Linked DNA regions of Homo sapiens: regions 2, 3 and 4 are each reported to be linked to region 1. The links are microRNA targets in miRTarBase. Many come from high-throughput screens and were not tested one by one. Region 1 holds a microRNA gene; each other region holds the end of a gene's coding sequence.

Region 1 (3,238 bases):
AGGCATGATGCCTGCAGCCTAGCCACATCCTTATGGGGACTTCCTGTCCTATCCCTGAGCCCTTCTTTGGTAACAGTATCACTCAGGCTGGGGGAAGGAGCTACAGTTTGTCCAAGCCAAGGACTTGAGGGTGGGGTGATGCTGGAGCATGTGAGCCATGCTGTTCATGCTCAGGAAGGTTGTGCAATTTCCACCTTAGGGGGACAGTGAGACCAACACCTGAAATCATTTGTGTCCAAAGCTATTTTTAAGGTACTTTATTCTTTGCAGGTCCCTTTCATGATTTTTGTTTTCTTTATAAGGGGACCTCTCATAATTAACCTCACAATAATCATGAAACATGTAGGACAACAGTTATTCCTATTTCAGATAAGCAAGCTGAGGCCTAAGGAGATTAAATTATGTGCCCAAGGTCATCCTGGCAAGCACTGGTAGACTCAGGCCTGATGCTCAGGCATCCCACCTCCTCTCCCAGTGCCCTCCATACTGAGTCCATGATCAGCCAACCAAGAATGGGAGTCAGGGATGGGAGAGGTCATCCTCAGAGCCATGTGCATTGGGCACCTCTGGCTCAGACAGCATGTGGACACTTTTAAGGGCATCATTTATGATGTCTGAAGACAAGAGAGGGTAAACAGGACCACCTAAATGTCTTCAACAAGCGCAAAGAGAAATTTTCAGGCTGTCAGATTAAAACAAGATAAATAAGGCCATTTTGTTATTAAAACAAAATAAAGGATGGCACATCAACAGGGTCACTGTGCGAGGCCTGCCTCGCAAAGCCTCTGGCTGGCTCCTGCTCCTGGGGCCTGACCTTTCAGAGCTGGCTGGTGGGCCTGTGTCCGGCACAGGCTCTCAGAGGCTGTTAGAGGCCTGGCTAATGGGAAGCGGTAAATCGGCATCCGCAGTCAGCACTTTCTGCAGCATCCCGAAGGAGCAGGCAGAGGCTTCTGGGGCATGTGTGGCGGCAGGTACAGGCTTTGGCAAGTCCAAGAGCTGCCAGAAACAGGCAAATTAGATGTTGCTTTGCCCTCTGCATGGGGGCTCAGGCTGGGATATGTAGGGGAAGAGAGGCGTGAAGGGAATCAGACATGCCCGTTCTGTGAGAGCAGGATCTTACTTACCTTCTATTCCCTCTCCCGAGACCACACACGCTGAGCCTCCATTCCAAAATGGCAGTCCCCACACCTGAGCTGGGCAAATCAATTCAAGAATAGATTTTTTGTTATCACTTAATGATTTGAGAATCTGTTTCAAGCTTCCACGAACCATCTTCACTTTCTTTAGGAAGGATGAGTGATTTGTGCCACAAACTAACCCCCAACCTCCTGTTGAAGTTATTTTCTTGACGTTCAGAACCAAGGAGCCTGTCTTTTGCTAAGAAACCTGCACACACTGAGTGATGGGCAGCTATGTGCTCGTCTGTCTCCCCGTGAAACCATGAGCAACTTACTCAACTTGATGATGATAACAACTAGTGTGTGCCAGATGCTTTAGATGCACTGTCTGTAAAGTAGGTAGCACCATTATTTTCCTCATATTAGAGATGAAACGGAGGCCTACAGCGGTCGGATAACATGCCCAGCATTACTCAGCTAAGTAGTGCCAGAGCCAGATTTAGAAAGCAGGTCAAACTAATTCCTGTGACTCCTTATGATGTTGTACTGCCTCATAAGGGTTGAATGAATGAATGTCCAAATGAATGAATGATCAGGAAGTATTCAGGATATTGCTTGAGTGTTTGCTTTCGTCCTTGCTGAGGAGACTTGGGAAACAAAAGGTTTAAATCAAATTGGAAATGACTAGTCTCCTTGCCTCCCAGCTGCCTGGTTCACTCAGCTGCTCAGGATGTGATAGTAATGAAACCAGGGTCTTGGGATCAGACCCAGGGGACCATCCCAGCACCAGAGGCAGTCCTCTGTCCTTTCAGCTACCTCACAGGTGACTGTTACCAGCTACCAGTCACAGCAGGGTCTTGATTAAAGAGTAGAGAAATGGCCAGAAGAATGCAAGTGGTAGATCAACAGAATCATTTTTAACTTACAGGGTGTTAGGATGGTGCGGGAAATCATCTAGCTCATTTGCTTCTTTTACAGATGGGGACGCTGAAGCCCAGAAAAGGGCAGTGCCACAACTAGTGAGGGACAGAACCAGGATTCAGACTCAGGTCCATGGGCCTGGATCACTGGCTAATTCTGTGGGTCAGGGCTGGAGGCACCCAGCACACCTAGTCTTCAAAGCAGCAGTCAGTGGTCACCTCCCCCTGTTTTTTCATCACTGCCTGCCCCTGCCCCCCAGCCAGGTTTGCTGAGGGTCCAGGTCTTCAGGCAGAGATGGCCACCTGCCCAGGAAAGGAAAGTGCACAGGGTGCAGGAAGAATCCATCCCTTGGCAGCACAGAGAGGAACTCACATCAGCCCAAGGGATGTCTACACAGTTGCCAGGAGCAGAGAGTCCAGCCTGTTTTCAGTGTCTATATGCAGTGATTAGCAAGCAAGAAAGAAGAGGGTCTCCCCAGAGACACCTGTCACAGATGGCAGGAGATGGGAGGGCTTGGCAGCCCAAGGGAAGGGGAAAGTATGGAGAAATTGAGATTTAGCCGGGATTCCCAACAACCCAGAATCCCTTTCTTCCACCCCTCAATACCCCCCTTACCCTAGCCCTGGTGCTGATGGCATGCATGGCCCTCCTGGCCCCTACCCACACACAGGCAAGGTATCTTCCTAGCCCCTGGCAGCTCTAGAAGAAATAAGATCCAAGTAGCGTCAAAGATGACAGATTGTGAGGGGGCCAGGGGCCCTCCCCTGACAGCAGGGCTCAGCTGGGAGGCCTCTGTGGAGCAGAACAGATGGGAGAAGTCTGAGAGGGATATCCTAGCAGCCTGGAGACCCTGTCTCTGTTGTGGCTTTTAGTTGGTTTCAGTCAATTCTTTTGTCATTGTTTTGTTTTATTGAGGCATTTCAGCATAGGGGCATGATCAAATGGTGCTGTGTCTGCTCACCCTAAAGGAGGTGGGGTTGGGGAAGAATGGGAGGGAACAGGTCTAGGCAACACCCCATTTTGCTTTGCCCTTGTTGGGATCTAAGGGGGGTATAGAGGGAGGACTGCAGAGGGAGACGAGTATATACCTCCGAGCATCCTGCCATCACTGCCTGCCTGGCTTACTCTAAAGCTGTAGTTTCTGTACCACTCCACACTTCCTGTCATGAGGACTCTGGGAATCCAGGGCGATGTCATGT
Region 2 (3,238 bases), not on the chromosome of region 1:
CTTTTATTAACCTATTAAACCATTCTGAAGTGCAATATTTTATAGAATATTACTTAGAAAATCTACCGGGGGTTGAGGGGGTGAAGAAAACAGGACAGAAGTTTTTTGGACTACCTGTCAGTTTCAGCTTCCTTATCTATAAAATGAGGGTAAAAAGTAGTACACAGAAATAGTGTGAGAATTCAACGAGGTAATGCATTTAACCACCTAGAACAGAGTTAAGTATTCCCTGAGTAGTAGAATGATGATGAGTTGGCACCATTACTAGGCTCCCTGGGCACCCAAAGGGGTCTGGATGTTAGGATGTTAGCCCAGTGTGTCCAACCTTTGTGATACTCCTGGCACTTCTCTTGCCCCAGTCACTCAGCAAGGTGATACTCTGCCTCCACCAGCCCAAGGAGGCTGACTTGCCTGTCCACTAGAGTGACCACTGCTAACTCTTCTTCTCCCCCCTTGTTCCCAGGAAAGATGGTGAATGTGCCCCTGGAGCAGCTGCCCCTCCTCTTTAAGGTGGTGCTGCATTCCTGCAAGACCAGTGTGGGCAAGGAATGACCTGTTCCAGGCGCCCTCCTCAGGCCAACCACAGCGTCTTGGGTGGGCAGGACAGGCTCTGGAGGGAAAAGCCAGAGAGACCAAGATGGAGGCTGTGGAGCAGCATTTCCCGTTGCCTCCATAGCAAGAAGAGTTTTTGTTTGTTTGTCTGTTTTTTTAACCTCATTTTTCTATATATTTATTTCACGACAGAGTTGAATGTATGGCCTTCAACATGATGCACATGCTTTTGTGTGAATGCAGCCAATGCATTTTCTTACAGTTTACAGAATGTGAAGATGTTTAATGTTACAGTGTTGTCATTGTTTAGAAATAGTTCTTTTGTATTTTGAGGGAGAGGGTGGGATGGGGCTAAGATGACTATTTCCATAATGTTGACAAAGATGACTACCTCAATGGAAATGGGGGGTGTGGCCATCCCTACTTTTTCCACATTTTCTCAGCAGACTCATACATTTGTCTGTCAGAGAGCAAATTGCCTTTTTTAGCCACAGAATTGCCAGATAAAACGGCACACTGTAAGGGGGCAAAGTGTTGTTAGGAGATTCACTAAGCAAGGTTGGTGAGACGGCAACAGGGTAGGAGGTGAGGATTGAGCCACGTCCTTTCCTTGGAAAGCGTGAAAATTAAGAGAGTAGGGCACAGTGACCATATTTAAGGCAGGTGTCCTTCCACCCAACAAGTCCTAAGGGCAGAAGAATTTCTGTTCTCACACCTTGCTGCCCCCCTTACCCCTGCACCACCATCATTGTCTACCACTGCGAACTTTCCATCTAGGCAAAGTCCTGGCAATCACTTGATCCACAGGACTCGCCTCCCAGCTCCCTCGGGGCCCCCAGCTACCTAGTTTCCTTACCTGGATCTCCTGAGGCCCACCTTCCTCCTTCCCACTCCCTTACACATTTGACTTCCTATTGGCCCTTTGAAAAACCAGCTGAGCAGAATGCCATGTTCTGAAGCCTGGTGCCCACTACTGATTTATTCTCCTTTCACCTTGTTTTCTTCAAAGGGTAGTAGGGCAAGGCCAGACTGCAAAAAGAATAGACACTCCCCTTTTGAAATCTGTTCCTCTCCCCTCCCCTTCCTACCGCACCCTCAGGTCTAAATCCGAAAACTTCAGGCTTTTTTAAACAATGAGAAGGACCATTCACCTGTCTGCTGACCAGAAATGTTGCCCCTAAGTTCTTCTCCAAGTTCTCCTTTTCTCTCCAGAGTGAGACCAGTTTTCCTCAGGGACCCAGGACACAAAGCCCAAGGCCCAGAGTGGCTCAGCTGCCCCTTACTTCAGCAGTGGACTGGCCAGCCAAGGCCTGGAGGGCTGGAGCCAGAAGCACCTGGAAGGGAAGGGGGGCTTTAAACTACCTCAGGTTCCTAATGGCCCGGCTGCTACCTCTGCAGACATGGCCTGGACTCCTTGACCTCTCACTACCTGCCCCACCTTATCCCAGGACGTGTTCCTTACCCTCTTGACTTTGGCCAGCGCTACACCAGGTCTGTCTTTGAACTCTTTCAGGTGCTTGTCCTGCCTACACCCAGGTATCTTTCACAGCCAGTGTGGCAAGCAGACCACTTAGTTGGCTGCATGCCTGGGTAGGTTGGAAGGGCCCACGGCACCTTCTTCTGCCTATTTAGTCAAAGGCTGTTTGCTGTCTCCTCAACTCAACCTAGTAAAGCTACCCAGGAGGGCACCACGTCGTGTGCATACTGGGTAGTCCATGTCTGATTGTAATTGTTTCTTTCTGGTGAAATGTTACGGGTACCAGCAGAGTGATGATTTTGGCCCTTGATGGATCTAAAACTCGGAACATTACTCCTCAATGCCGTTTCCCCAGTTGCTCTGAGAAGGAAGAGACATGTTCCTCAGGAAAAGCTCCAGCTAGCATGTTTTTCACGTCAGTGGGAAGATTCTTGTGTGTTCGTGTGTATCTGTTTATTTCTAAGTTCACGATACTTGTTCCCCTGAATTTTATTTAACCAACTAGATCACATTCTTTGGCCACAGGTCAGACTCTGAGCTGCTTTCCTCCAGATCGGGAAGGAGACACATATCACAGATGCCTTCTCTAAGACAGCTCCTGTGTACAGCATCGTTCTTTGCTGAGGCCTCTATCTGTCCAATTATTATTTTTGAAATTGCTTTTCAAATTAAACATTTTACCCGTTGTGTTGGGTGTCAAAAGAAATTGCTCTCTGATGAGGCAAGAACATGTCTCTCCAACAACGTAGTATTGAACAGAGCAAGTTGTTAATTTGTGGAGTAGGGGAAAGGTTCTGCAAGTTGCCATTGTACAAATCCAGTTTTACAAATGTTTGCAGCAGATTCCACAGAACAAAGAGCCCATTCATTGCCGAGAGCCCTGCAGAATCTCAGAGCAAAGTGGCTGTGTGTTCCGAGCCGGAGCCTGACCTGTGGACCGTCTTTAATGTCTTCTGCACCAGTCCTTTTATGACGTGGGCTTTTTTTAAACAGGGTAAAGTGAATGTGTTGCATTGCAAACTCAGGTATTATGAGGAGAAGGTAGGAGTGTAGCTAGCAGCGTGGAGACATTAGGTCAGCCACTAGATGTATTTGTGAATTTGGTTTGAAGGACACGGAGAAAGGTTGGAGGGGAGGTTTGGTGTGTTTGTTTTTTGCTTTCTTCCCCATAATGTTTGGTTAACAGGTAGCCTTTTTGCGAGTGGAAGG
Region 3 (3,238 bases), not on the chromosome of region 1:
TGAATTCTCATGCTGGTAATCAATCAAAGGCTTTTTACTTAACCCAAACAAAAAAAGTCACTTCCTCAAATTACAGAAACTAAAAATTACAAAGTATAAAATTGTAAGTTTCTGGTGAGATATTTTAAAGAATATCTTGAATAGTAGAGAATTGTATAAAAGGTGTTAAAGTTTCCATATTGGAAAGTGTTTAAAAACAATGAATATCAAACTAACCAAAACCATTAACAGTAGATGCATTATAGATCAATTTATAGTTTTCCTCAACATTAAGAGCAAGAGAAAACAGCCTTAAAATATACAACATTTAGGCAATTGCAATATTTAAGAAATATATGTACACATTTATAAAGATTTATAGCATAATTCTTTTTTAAAATCTAATGTAAGAATTATGCACTGGTTATAAAATTAATAAGAAAAGAACAATTATAATACCAACCATTTGACAAAATGACACTGCAGAAAATAAATAACCTACAGGTTTCTCTGATATTCCTTGACCATACAGATTAATCTAAAAATGGTAATAATGGAACATCCTTCAAACTAGAAAACATTTTGCAAAATAAATATTTATGCTTCACTTTAAAACATGAATATCCTAAATTATTTACACCATCTTATCACTAAGGCCCTGTCTATATATAAAATAAGTCAAATGAGGAATTGAAATACTGTTTTTAATTGTAGCTAACCCAAGTACACTGCCTCTCCACCTGCCACCCCCACCCCAACAAAGTATGTGTGTGTGACTTAATCAGCTTTAATTTCTACCCTAGGGGAAATTAATTGCAACTAAAAACCAGAAAATAGCTTTAACTAGGTTTTATTGGTTTGTATTGGTTTTTAGCTGTAATAAAAATAAGGTGGATAAAGAAACAAATATCTTTTTATCAACATATTTGGAATAAAAACTGTATGGTGACTTTGGGGTTTATATTAGCTATTCAAACTCTTTGATAATTGATCTTTCAATTACTATTGGTGAGACAAAAAAATTCAACCAAAGCCAAAGAAATGTCTTGTTTAATGTTCTTAAATATTTCAAGTTAAAGTAAAACAAATTTGCTAGGTATGTTAGTGTACAGATTGAAAAAGACATGAGGGAACAAAGAAAAGTACACTAGAATTATGTTTTAGTTTTCCTTTGGTATTAAGAGATATATTATCTCTTTCAAATCTATTCTGTTACTTAAAAAATATCAATAATGTAATGATTTTTCTTAAGAAGGGTGAGAATACAACAGCTGACACCTGCTTTGTGTATTAAGAAAAATATGGTTAAAACATTTTACTTCCCATAATGATTTACTTTCATGGAAAACTGAACCATTATATCATTTAAATATGTTAATAGATTAAGGACATCAGACTTTGTTTTCCAATTTTTTCTTCTGTGGGAGTATAAATATGGGGACATGACTATGGGACTATATATTTTCACATTGTTAGCACTTTGTTAGTACAGTTACTTTTAGGTATTGTCTTTTAGTAGCATTATTAAAGTTAAAAAATAAAGGAAACAGAAGTAAAGAGTTTATAGAAGGATACACAGAAATACGGTACTTATCTCTGAGTGGTGACATTAGAATGGGTTTTTCATTCTATCCTTTTTACTTTATTTATACATTGCTTATATAACAGATATCATTCAAGAGCAATGAAGATAACTGTATAATGCTATGGCGTCAACTTACCTTAGCATACAACCAACTTGATAATAAATAATGGTCAAATGGCCAAACCTACCAATCCACAGAGATCATTCAAATATCTAAAATGATTATGGATCAGACATACAGAATACCAAACATAGGATACAAACAACAACAACAACAACAACAATTTCCCATGATTAAAGCCAAGGCTTTAAAGAAGACACACTTTCTTAGGTATTTTCAACTAAATGTTATCCACCTCAAAAGTGTTTAAGCTCATGGAATGTCCATAGATTCCAGAAAATTTGTGCAATTCTGTTTTTTTTTTTGAGATGGAGTCTTTGCTACATTGCCAGGCTGGCTGAGTATCTCGATTCTCCCACCTCAGCCTCCCTTATAACTGAGATTACAAGCACATGTGCCCAGCTTAATTCTGCTTTTTATATAATACTTCCCACTAGGCATAATCTAATTGCAGTGTGGGTCATCTTAATATAAATCAGTAATCTAAAAACATTTTAAACAACTAATTTGGTGACATCCTAGAAAAGTATGCATAGTAACACAAATCCCAGAATATATGACTCTGATTTATATAACAAAATTTAACCAATTAGCTTTTCTATTTAATGCTTTAAAATAAAATGAGGAATAATTTGAAAATTGAATAAACCTAGAGAAATTGTGGCATTCTATATGTAATCCTAATTTACAAAAAATGTGAGTAAAACAGTTTTTACTTTTATTAACCATGCTACCATACCTAAATAAAATCCATACAACCATTTTGAGAGTATTTATATTGAGGTTTATGAAGTATCTATATCAAGAAAATGAGAAATTATCACCAATTTTGACTAGTATGCTTTAACAAAAAAAACCTTTTTTTAGCCTAAGTGGCTATAATATTCCTTTATATTCATATCATAAATTTTATTAGGTCAAGAAGCTAACTAGTTTGTTCAAAGTGATGATGAAAAGGTTAGTGAAATAAAAGAGAGTTATCAATAGCAGCTTTTAAAGAAGCTTCTCTTTGTTCAAGGAAACATTTTAATGTCCAATGTAATGAGAACTTTCTTCCTTTTCTAGTCTTAGAGTGTTTCTTATGGTGAAGTCCATATTTTCTTGAAACTCTTTATATGTATTGGTGATGGGAATTGCTAAACAGTTATTACACTTGTTTCCAACAGGAAAATCCACATGCAGACACTCAATTGAAGGAGTGGGTTTAAATCCAGCTGGAGGAATGGAACTGCAACCAGTTGCAAAAATAAGAATGTCTTCCATTGTTGTTGTAGATTTACCATCTGAAAAAATTTACCAATAAAAGAGTAAAAGAAACAAAAGTAAATCCATGTTATATATTGCTATCATCATAGATTCTTCTCCAAATAGACTTGGAATACTGAAAGGCACAGACTCCCACATTTGTTTTGGGCAAACTAAATCACAAAGTCAGATGTAGTAACAGGCAAACAGTACATAAATGAATCTCAAAGTAGAAGGACTAATACAATCATTTAGTACAACTACTTATTGTATATAACAAATACAGACAGAAAGACTAAACGGTAAAA
Region 4 (3,000 bases), not on the chromosome of region 1:
AGATTATGGTCCCAGGGTTATGGTTATTGTTACTAAAAAAGTTGACTACTGGGATAAAGATGTTAGGCAAAAACTGGAAAACTGTACTAAAATTTTTGAAAAAAATGTCTATGTAGATAAAAATCTTACAGAGTTTTGGTTAGATGCATATGTGCAATATTTAAAAGGTAACAGCCAAGATCCTAATGAGAAGAATACTTTTATGAACAATATTCCTGATTTTTTAAGCAATTTTCCAAATTTTCAGCATGATATTAATATTTCTTCATCAAATGAAATCATTTCTTCCCGGGGCTTCATTCAGACAACAGATGTTTCTTCCTCAGCCAAAAAGAAAATATTGTTATTCTAATTACGACGCATAGCTGAAGACTGTCAAATTCCCCTAATGGTGTATAACCAGGCATTTATATATTTTGATCAGTATGCTGCAATATTAGAAGACACTGTTAGAAATGTATTGGTTGCATCAGCAGCTATGTTCATTGTTTCCTTATTGTTAATCCCTTATCCATTGTGTTCCTTGTGGGTGACTTTTGCTATTGGTTCTGTGATTGTAGGGGTAACGGGTTTCATGGCATTCTGGAAAGTCAATCTTGATTCCATATCCATGATTAATCTTGTCATTTGTATAGGGTTTTCTTTCGATTTTTCTGTACACATTTCCTATGCATTTGTTTCTAGTTCTCAACCCTCAGTAAACCAAAAATCAGTTGAGGCATTGTATCTTCTAGGCTACCCAGTGTTACAAAGTGCAATTTCAACAATAATAGGGGTGTGTGTTTTAGCTGCAGCGAAAGCATACATCTTCAGAACATTTTTTAAGATTATGTTTCTTGTTATGATATTTGGGGCAGCTCATGGCCTAATTTTTATTCCAGTATTCTTAACCTTTTTTGGAAGGTTTATTTGAATATCCACTAACAAGTCAAAGACCAATTCTAGAATTCCTGATTGCCCTATTCCAATCTGATTTTTTTAAATGCACTATTAAGAATAGTCAACAAACTACTGGGAGGCCAAGGTGGGTGGATCACCTGAGGTCAAGAATTCGAGACCAGCCTGGCCAACATGGTGAAACCTCGACACTACTGAAAATACAAAAATTATCCAGGCATGGTGGCGTGCACCTATAATCCCAGCTACCTGGGAGGCTGAGGCAGGAGAATCGCTTGAACCTGGGAGATGGAGGTTGCAGTGAGCTGGAGTGCACCAGGCACTCCAGCCTGGGTGACAAGAATGAGACTCCGTCTCAGAAAAAAAAAAAAAAGTCAACAAACCAAAAACAAGGGCATGTTTCCTTGACTTGGAAATCCCATTTTAAATTATTATTTAAAATATACTGATAAAAATTAATTAGTCTTATGTTAAAATATCTTCACTAAATTAGGAAGTGTTATCTTTCTTACAGTCTTTACAATCAAGTACAAGGTACAACTTTTCTGTTATTTTTTCCCTTTATATTTATGCCTGAAATTCAACTATTGTATGTATTGTTCATACTATAAATGGAATATTATTTTCATTGCACTTGCTACATGCATTCATATGTGAAAATGCATCTTATCATTTATTTTCCCATTCAGGGGCTTTTCTATGCATTTTGTTAATGGTATATTTCGATAAGAAGTTTTTAAAGTTTATAAATCCAATTTATCATATTTTTTTCATGGTTAGTGCCTTCTTATCCTAAGAAATATTTTGACTACTCCAAGGTTACAATTAAAGTCATCTCTGTTTTCTCCTCTAAGCTAATAGTTTTGATCTTACATTTAGGCCTGTGATCCATACGCATGTATTTGTTGGGCAGTATCGATAGAGGTCCATTCCCTTTTCATAAAAGCTGCCCATTTGTCTCAGCATCATTTGTGAAAAGACTGTCATTCAGGATAGGATTAACTTGGCATCTATATAAAAAAAAAATCAGTTGACAATATATGTGTGGTTCTAATTCTGTGCCATCGATCTGTTTGTCTGCTCTAAGGCCAATACCACCACACAGCCTTCATTACTGAAGCTTTTTATTAATTACTGAAATTAGGCTGTGTATGTTGTCCACTTTTATTTTTATTAATCTTTCTGATTTCAAAGTTTATCTTTGTTACGTTCTTTTTTTTTTTTTTTTTTTTTTTGAGACAGAGTCTCACCCTGTCACTAAGGCTGGAGTGCAGTGGTGCGATCATAGCTCACTGCACCTAAAACTCCTGGGCTCATGTGATCCTCCTGCCTCAGCCTCTGAGTAGCTGGGACTACAGTCATGCCATTACATCTGACTAATTTTTTGTTTTAATTTTTTTTTAAGAGACAGGGTCTTTCTGCATTGGCCAGGCTGGTCTTGAACTCTTGGCCTCAAGCAATTCTTCCGCCTCAGCCTCCAAAACTGCTGGGATTACAGGTGTGAGCCACCATACCAACACTTGGTTACTTTTTTATCTTAAACTCTATAAACCAACATTGCTTTTTTTAAAGAAGGTATTCATCATCATAAAACTATACTGTAACAAAGCAATTCACTTTTACCCTGGAACTTGTTGGTTTTGGGCCTTGAATTTAACTCATCACACCAACCAATGGGTTGGGAAAAGTGAAAAACAGCAACAGTGTAGAAGTTGTATTAATGATTAGAAACGCTGGCTATTTAAATGTGACCTTGCCTAAAGGCTTTAGCCATGTTTTTGCTGTTTTGCAATCAGTGGCTCCAGCTCCTTAGTTATCTCTCCTAGACGTCAATTCCAAATTAGTTTCTTTTCCTCACCAAAAATATTTGGGGTGATGTCAGCATAAACGGGGTAGAATGTAGCTCCAAGAGCCCATTTCATCACAAAAATAAAAAAATTGAAAAATGCAACAACTGTTAGAAAAGACTCTAATTGAACTCTGAAAACGGTCCAAGGTTTACACCAACCAAGTGGACACCAAATCAGAAAAAAAGCAACTTAAAAATGGTAGGAAAATTTTGTGGCGTTTTTATTTGCCCTTGTCTCACACCCCCCTCCCTGG

Evidence for each region. Region 1 holds the annotated microRNA hsa-miR-921 (CUAGUGAGGGACAGAACCAGGAUUC, at 2,135-2,159, shown strand). A microRNA usually pairs through its seed, bases 2 to 8, with sites in the 3' UTR of a target mRNA and lowers its output. Matches are read on the target gene's strand: a 7mer-m8 pairs with bases 2 to 8, a 7mer-A1 pairs with bases 2 to 7 and ends in A, and an 8mer does both.
Region 2: miRTarBase lists NR6A1 as a target of hsa-miR-921. Seed matches in the 3' UTR shown: 7mer-A1 at 1,099-1,105 and 7mer-m8 at 1,974-1,980.
Region 3: miRTarBase lists G2E3 as a target of hsa-miR-921. Seed matches in the 3' UTR shown: 7mer-A1 at 2,644-2,650.
Region 4: miRTarBase lists PTCHD3 as a target of hsa-miR-921. Seed matches in the 3' UTR shown: 7mer-A1 at 1,379-1,385.

What each region holds. Positions count from the first base shown.
Region 1 is chr1:166,153,694-166,156,931 of GRCh38, reverse strand. It overlaps MIR921 (microRNA 921), which reads left to right and starts at 2,134; the gene lies at 2,134-2,189. The region is part of intron 1 of FAM78B (family with sequence similarity 78 member B); the gene reads left to right.
Region 2 is chr9:124,520,019-124,523,256 of GRCh38, reverse strand. It overlaps NR6A1 (nuclear receptor subfamily 6 group A member 1), which reads left to right. Exons shown (of 10, transcript NM_033334.4): 10 at 464-3,238. The coding sequence ends at 552. Among named protein-coding and RNA genes, the nearest start is that of NR5A1, 14 kb to the right of the region's middle.
Region 3 is chr14:30,616,008-30,619,245 of GRCh38, reverse strand. G2E3 (G2/M-phase specific E3 ubiquitin protein ligase) reads right to left here. Exons shown (of 15, transcript NM_017769.5): 15 at 1-2,968. The coding sequence ends at 2,712. Among named protein-coding and RNA genes, the nearest start is that of SCFD1, 4.7 kb to the left of the region's middle.
Region 4 is chr10:27,395,646-27,398,645 of GRCh38, reverse strand. PTCHD3 (patched domain containing 3 (gene/pseudogene)) reads left to right here. Exons shown (of 4, transcript NM_001034842.5): 4 at 1-1,525. The coding sequence ends at 352. Among named protein-coding and RNA genes, the nearest start is that of PTCHD3, 17 kb to the left of the region's middle.